Homo sapiens: one gene and its partner. The protein of the gene in region 1 purifies or fractionates together with the protein of each later gene. This does not show direct contact. Each region holds a gene or a part of one and is shown on either strand. Other genes may lie near its edges.

Evidence for each region.
Region 2: the proteins of SMIM8 (region 1) and ORM1 purify together in Homo sapiens (affinity purification with mass spectrometry; one large-scale study listed by BioGRID and IntAct). This does not show direct contact.

What each region holds. Positions count from the first base shown.
Region 1 is NC_000006.12:87,336,088-87,339,587, forward strand, and holds part of SMIM8 (small integral membrane protein 8), read left to right. Parts: intron 1-921; 5' UTR 922-944; coding exon 945-1,079; intron 1,080-3,500.
Region 2 is NC_000009.12:114,321,747-114,325,897, reverse strand, and holds the start of ORM1 (alpha-1-acid glycoprotein 1 precursor), read right to left. Parts: upstream 2,801-4,151; 5' UTR 2,765-2,800; coding exon 2,651-2,764; intron 2,236-2,650; coding exon 2,093-2,235; intron 1,881-2,092; coding exon 1,810-1,880; intron 1,109-1,809; coding exon 1,001-1,108; intron 850-1,000; coding exon 746-849; intron 1-745. UniProt on the Homo sapiens protein: Functions as a transport protein in the blood stream. Binds various ligands in the interior of its beta-barrel domain. Also binds synthetic drugs and influences their distribution and availability in the body.

The DNA of each region.
Region 1 (3,500 bases):
CTTAACTTTTATTTTATAACATTTACTGTACAGCGATTGCAGCATTTCCCCCAAATAATTTTACTATATTGTCATTTATGTCCATCTTTGGAAGCTTTCTTTCTCTACCTCCCCTCTTTCAACCCTCACCTCCCATCCCAGCATTAGATGGCAGAGAGGATAAAATAAGCTTTTGCCTAATAATACCTAGAAGAGAAAAATACTCCCAAAGTGCTGACATTTCAGCTAGGAAAACAAGAAGACAAAAGACACACTTGGATTTAATAGGATAGATTTACAGTAGCTAAGATAAAAAAGGATATTCAGATTAAGGAGATAGCAGGGCATAACCTACCCAGAAAGTTGCTGATTGGCAATGGAAGAGTAAGTACAAACAGCTCCTTATCCTTACTGCTTGGGAAAATGAGTTCGTGTGTGGGCTAGTGGAGGAAGACAGAGGAGCAGTGGGGGAAACTGGCCAGGAGTGAATCTGTAGGAGAAGATAATGAGCAAAGGAATGCTGGTCATTCTCTCAGGTTGGTGTTATGGAGGGGCTGTTGAAAGGTGAGGAGGAGTGAAAGCAAGGAACTAAGGAAAGGAACGGATAACCTACTGGCCTCACCTACTCATAGTCTTGGTTGCATATGATACGACGTGACTCAGAGCAACAAACAATTCTCCAGTCTTCTATAAAAGCAGGAAAACAACCTTTGCCCACCACTTTTATTTTGAGATGAAAATTAAAATAATGAACAAAATTAACAAATTAAAGTTAAAGCACCATTTACAAAGTACATTATACAAAGTAATAAGATAACTGACAATCACATTTGGTATGTATCTGGGTTGGAATTCAAAGAAGGAATTTAAGAATTACTTTTTAAAGAAATTTATCAGAGAAGCACAATTATGAAGGGAAAAAATATATTATTTTGTTTTTAGATAATAAATCATCATTGATCAAGATGTCTTCAGCACCTGAGCCTCCAACATTCAAAAAGGAACCACCCAAAGAGAAAGAGTTTCAAAGCCCAGGGCTCAGAGGGGTGCGCACAACAACCTTATTTCGTGCTGTGAATCCAGAGCTCTTCATTAAACCTGTAAGAAATACATCCAGGATAAGACTTTGTGTTTAATCCAACCAGACTGTCAGAAAGTTCTAATTTTCTTGTATTTGATTTTATCATGGAAATTTTATGTTGACAAGTAAGACCTCTCTGTGAATAAAAGCAGGTGGAAGGACGATTGTAAATGCTGTTTCACATATAAATACACATATAAAAGTAAATATTTTAAGGGCATTTGAGAGTTATAATGAAAAATGGTTGCCCTTTATTGGATTGGCTTCTCAAACTATCTAAAGTACTATTTTAATAGTTGCATTAATTTGAAGACAACTTTTGTTGTTTGATCAGGTACTATTAGGTAAATAAGACCTTCCATTTAAGCAAGGAAACCAAAATGAAAATCTGACCATTCTTAACATACTGCAATTCTACCCTGTAGGTAATATTTTTATCTAAGCAATATTACAGATACTTTGTGAAAAATTCCAAAACATTTGATTTGATGATATTCATTTATTTATTAGAGGTTCTGTCACCTAGGCTGTAGTGCAGTGGTACAGTCAGCTCACTGCAGCTTCAAACCCCTGGGCTCAAGGGATCCTTGTACCTCAGCCTCCTGAGTGGCTGGGACTACAGGTGCACGCCTTTATGCCTGGCTCATTTTTAAAATTTTTTGTAGAGATGGTGTGTCAGTATATTGCCCAAACTGGTTTTGAACTCCTGGCCTTAAGCGATTCTCCCACCTCAGCCTCCCAAATTGTTGTGATTACAGGCATGAGCCACCACGCCTGGCTGAGTTTATTTTTAAATAAATGTAGATTCTATTTTAAAATAAATGTAAAATCAAATTAAAATAAAATATGATAAATATTTAAGTGTGTTGAATCTGATTAGAATTTTAGTAACATAGTTATCAATGTAAACTTTTAAAGTTAAATAGATCAACTTAATCAGATCATTAAATCAAGGTAAAATATTTTAAAAGCTTTGAACTAATGTGTTCTTTTAATTGCTAAAAGCATTTCAAGAATTGTAAATTTAAACTGCTCTGAGTCTGTGTCCTTTCTTAGGTGTTCATCTAAGTGAAAAAGTTTGACCCTTATTTTGAAATAGAAGTGTCACCTAAAGGAAGAAACTGAGGCAAATTAATATAGGTAGGGAGTTTATTTGGGCCAAGGTTGAGGACTGCAGCCTGGGAAACACTTCAGAGTAACCTTGGGAAGCACTCTGGAGAGCAAAAGAGAGGCTGGAGTTTTTAAGAAAAAAGATGAATCAGGAGAGGGGGCAAGTACAAAAGTTGCTTTTCAGTAATTTTCATTGGTTTGCAGAAATGACATTGATTAGTAATTATACATTGTTGAACTACAGAGTATGAGTTATAATGTCTAGTGGAGGGCATTGTAAGGTTAATATATAGCTATTGGTTGTGTCAGTCCAGAGCCCACATAACAAGGGCTTCAAAATTATTACTTAGCTCAAGACATGACTACTGTCTCATTCCAATGCCTCTCTGGGCCTGATAATTTAAAGGGGGCTCACATTCCACAGTTAAAGAGTTTCTTTTATTTCTCAGTAGTGGTACAGCAGGTATGGTGACAGAAGCAGAAACTGTTATTTATATCACTACTGTGCATTTACATTGACCTAAGAAAGACCAACTCGTTGAGTGTGAACATGCAAAGAAAAGGGTCTGAGGTACAGTTTCAGGAGTAACAAAGTTAATAGACAAAATACTTTTCTGGAGTTGTGAACATCTTTCCTGTATTTAAAAGCTTTTTTTTTTTTTTTTTTTTGACTGGGCATCATGACTCATGTCTGCAATCCCAGTACTTTGGGAGGCTGAGGTAGAGGGATCTCTTGAGGCCAGGAGTTCAACATACTGAGACTCTATCTCTACAAAAAAATTTAAAATTAGTCTGGCCACAGTGGCTCACACCAAGGTGGGCGGATCACTTGAAGTCAGGAGTTTGAAACCAGCTGGCCAACATGGTGAAACCCTGTATTTATTAAAAATACAAAAAAATTAGCCAGGCATGGTGTGCACAACTGTAGTCCCAGCTTGGGAGGCTGAGGCAGGAAAATCGCTTGAGCCCAGGAGTTTGAGACTGCAGTGAGCTATGATTGCACCACTGCACTCCAGCCTGGGCAACAGAATGAAATCCTGTCTCTTAACAACAACAACAAAACACAGCGTGTGTGTGTGTGTGTGTGTGTGTGTGTGTGTGTGTGTGTGTGTGTGAAATCCTGTCTCTTAACCTCTTAACAACAACAAAACACAGCGTGTGTGTGTGTGTGTGTGTGTTTGTGTGTGTGTGTGTGTGTGTGTGTGTTTTAACCTGAAAGCATCACTTTGCCTCTTAGGGTCTTGGATTGTCCAAGAGTAAATCAAGGTTAACAGCATAATAGCTGTTCCCATCACTAAATTTCTTGAGGTAATGGAGTAGTTTCCCAGAG
Region 2 (4,151 bases), on another chromosome or scaffold:
GGTGAGCTGACTACAGTGGTTGTGTTCATAAGCCCTGTCCCAGGATCCTGGGACTGCAGATGGGGGCAGGAGGTAGTTCACACCACTGGTGGTCATCTCAGATGGCAAATGGAAGGAATTGTTTTTCTTTGAATAGTCATGGAAGTACTGCATGTATATATTTTAAAAATTGGAACCAGCTCATCGGTGCTGTGATTTCACAGGTATTGGGCACAGGGCCACACCAACGCAAGTCTTCCAAACACAGGTTTAAAGAAAAGTGTTAAGGAGCTCATTATAAAGTAATTTTCATTTGTAGCAAAAATCGGGATGGTGACTGTGGCCGTGCTGCAGTGTGGGTGACATTGAAAACCACAGTATCAATTCCCCACTGCACGGGTATTAAAAATGAGTGGGGAGTGGAGGTGGGGTGAAAGCCTGGGGTTTGGGACGCGTCTGTAGGTGGTAACTCCCCGCATTACGTCCCCTCCAATTGCCAATCCCCCAACCCCGTGGCTCACGCTGTTCCCTCCTGTTAGCTTTCAGGTCCTCCCTGGTTTCACAGGGACTTCTCCCTCCTGGGCTCTCATCCACCACCCCTGGGCCTCTGTAGAGCTCAGCTGTCCCTACAGTGAGGCAGGTGCCTAAAAGCAGAAGATCTGCCTAGCTGTGCAGCCTTGCCTGGCAGCTCTCCTGCTCTGGGCCTCTGGGGCTGCCCAAGTTGGGCCATGGACAAGGTGGGCACTGTCCAATCCCTTGCGTTTACCTTTTTCCAATCGGTGTACACGACATCTGACTTGGGAATGCGCAAGCAGTCGAGAGCTTCGTAGAACTCTCCCAGTTGCTCCTTGGTCGTCTCTGGCTTGTCAGCTGCAGGGGGAGCAAGGAGACTGACTGGGGACATGGTGGGGCCCGGCGGGAGGCCAGGGAGGGCTGGGGTTCTAGGGGCCAGCCCAGGGGTGGGTGAATGGGGGGTGAGGCCTGAGAGGGGCATGAGTTTGGGGCTGCTAAGCATGCCTACCATAGACAGACAGCCCCCAGTTCTTCTCATCGTTCACGTCAAAAGCAAGCATGTAGGTCTTGGTGTCCCTGAGGATCAGCAAGTGAGCGAAATGCTCTTGGCCTCCCACTGGAAGAGAAAAGGAGCCTCTGGGTGAGAACATGGGATGGCACAATGGTGTCTGTCTTACAGGTGAGGAGGCCTAGGTGTGTCAGTGGCCACACAGCCCATCAGTGAAGGCCCAGGGCTCCTTTGGGCCACCGTGTGCCCAGCCCCTGCTGCATGCCCAGCTCCACGCCAAGCACTTTCTGTACATGAGATCTCAGGAGCCTCACACAGACCGTGGCTGTCAGGGCCTTTCTCCGTTTTACAGATGAGGAAAATGAGGCCCAGAGAGGAGGCTCGGGATGCTAAATGGTGTCAGTTCAGCTCCATCAGCTCCCTGCCATGTGCCACCTCTGCGGTGATGGGGGACATAGTTGAAGGTACCACCTCTCCAACATACAGGCTTCTACCATTGGTTTGCAAAGGATCTTAAAGAGGGCATGAGAGAGAGGCAGATCTGAAGCCAGCCTGGAGTTCCAATTCTAGTTCTAATTATAAGCTGTGTGACCTTGGGGAAACTATTTGAGGTCTCTGTTCTTCTTTTTCCTCCTCTAATTCTCTCAGTGTCCTCTTAGAGTTGTTTCTGAGCACATCGTTAGAGCTCAAAAATGTTAGTGGTTATTTCTCTGTGCCCAAAGCCTCCAGGGCTCTACATCCAGCCCCCACCTTATGCTGGCCTGCCCTGTTCCCACAGTGAACCCTCCTGCCTGAGGGCTGGCCCTCACCGTATCTGGAGATGGTCCCATTTTCCCGCTGGACATTCAGGTAGGTGGTGTTATAGATGCACTGGTCCTGTCTAAAGCCAAACAGAAGGCGGAAGGAAAACAGGAAGATTATTGAGAAGTGGCCAATCGCCCATCACAGTCCTGGGGCAAGAGTCTGGTGGAGATTAAAGCCAGCCCTCCCGGTTCCACCCATGGGAAGGCCAAGGCCAGGAAGAAGGAGGGACTTGCTCAGGTCTTCTGGCCAGAAGCTGAGATGGGGGTGCATTGGAATGGGGGCTCTCACCGGGTCTGGTACTCTCTGAGAAAGATCGTGTCCTCTGTCTTGTTGGGGGTGAAGTAAAAGAAGGTTGCTTGGATCTCCTGAACCGACTTATTGTACTCCTCGTTTCGAAAGGCCGATGCGATATAAAACCACTTGCCAGTGATCTGGGGAGAAGGTGGGAGCTGGTGATGGGGGCTTGATGCTGAATCTTTGACTGTCAGCTGGGAGGAGACTCAGGCAGATCTCTCCCTGATTTTGCAGATGGGGAGATGAGGCCCCTGGTGGGCAGTGCGCATGCAGGAGCTCACCCTGAGGATCAGTCATTGCCCCCCAGGCAGCCCCTCCAGGCCCAGCACAGAACCGTCCTCCGTGAAGGACTCTGCAGTGAGGCTTCTGTGTTTGGAGGCAGGGGGTGCCTCCAGAGTCCCCTGGGCTGGTGAGAATTTCACCCTGGGGACCCAGAAGAGAAAAAGGCAGAGCCGGGAGTGGGGGTCCGACCACAGCCAGCAGGGAAAGGGAAGCCCAGAGAAGGGAGGCAGCTGCCCATGTGCTCAGGACAGGGCTAGCCCAGGCACTCACCCGGTCCAGGGTGGCGTTGGTGATGGGCACCGGTACTAGGTTGGCACACAATGGGATCTGGGCTTCCAGCAGAGGTAGGAGGCTCAGGACTGTAAGAACCCAGGACAGCGCCATACTGAGACCAGGAGGCACGTGGAGCCAGGCAGTGCTGGTGGCTGCAGGGTGCAGTCACCTTTATAATAAACTATGGGCGGTCACTTGGAGCCCAGCAAAAGTTTACTCTGTGTCTGTGACACAATCCTGCCAGCACTTGGGAAATGCCTCGCACAAAACCTCCCCCAAAGGCCAGCTCGGAGCACCGCCTCCAAACCCAGGTCTAATTTGAGTTCCTCACATGGAGAGGTTACAAAAGCCCTAGAGTATGGCTGCCCAAGGCCAAGGTGGGTGCGGGGCTGCAGCAACATTAGTAAACGTGTGAGTCCACAGATTTCCTAGAGAGGCCTCCCGCAGAGGAATCTCATGTCTTCATTCAATTCCTATCCCTCTGAGTGCCAAGACTTACTTCAGTGGGACCCAGCCACAAACCTAATGATGAAGCCACCTTTGAGGGTCCCCAGGCTGGCATGGGATGTATGTTGTGGCGGGGAGAGTTGGGGTGAAGGATGCCGGGGAAGACAAACATAGATTCAGTTCCACTGAGTGTGGCAACAGCTGTGTCAGAGCCAAAGTTCATTGGGGCCCCAACCCAGCCCTGGACGCAGGCACATTTCCAAAAAGGGACATCCAAGTTGAATGTCTATTTCCAGTAAATATACTACTCGAAGCATCTCCCAACATCTCAAACAGGAAACTGTCTCCCTGTTTTCCCCCATTCCCTGCCATCTGAGCAGGCAGCTTGCTTCTCTTTCACCAATACGCCCCCAATCCTGGAGCAGTGCCCAGCACTTCAAGGGCACTCGGTATATTCTGTGGAATGAGTGATTCCGTGGCCCATTTGTGTTCCTACCTCACGGGTCAAGTCTTTATTTGTATGAATAAATACTTTCAGAAAGTATTCATTTTTTTTTTTTTTTGATACGGAGTTTCACTCCCGTCCCCCAGGCTGGAGTGCAATGGCTCAATCTCGGCTCACTGCAACCTGTGCCTCCTGGGTTCAAGCGATTCTCCTGCCTCAGCCTCCTGAGTCGCTGGGATTACTGGTGCCCTCCACAACGCCCAGCTAATTTTTTTTGTTGTTGTTATTTTCAGTAGAGATGGGGTTTCTCCATGTTGGCCAGGCTGGTCTGGAACTCCCGACCTCAGGTGACTCACCCGTCTCGGCCTCCCAAAGTGCTGGGATTACTCAGAAAGTATTCTTACGGTATGATTATAATTTTGCATTCTTATTCATTTCATTCTGAATAACTTTCATATTTCAGTGTAGTTTGTAGTTAAAAGCTTAATGGACCCAAGATGGGAGAGTCACCTGAGTCCTGGAGTTCAAGACTAGCCTGGGCAACATAGTGAGACCCTATCTTTACACAAAAATATTTAAAAATTAGCCAGGTCGGCCAGGCGCGGT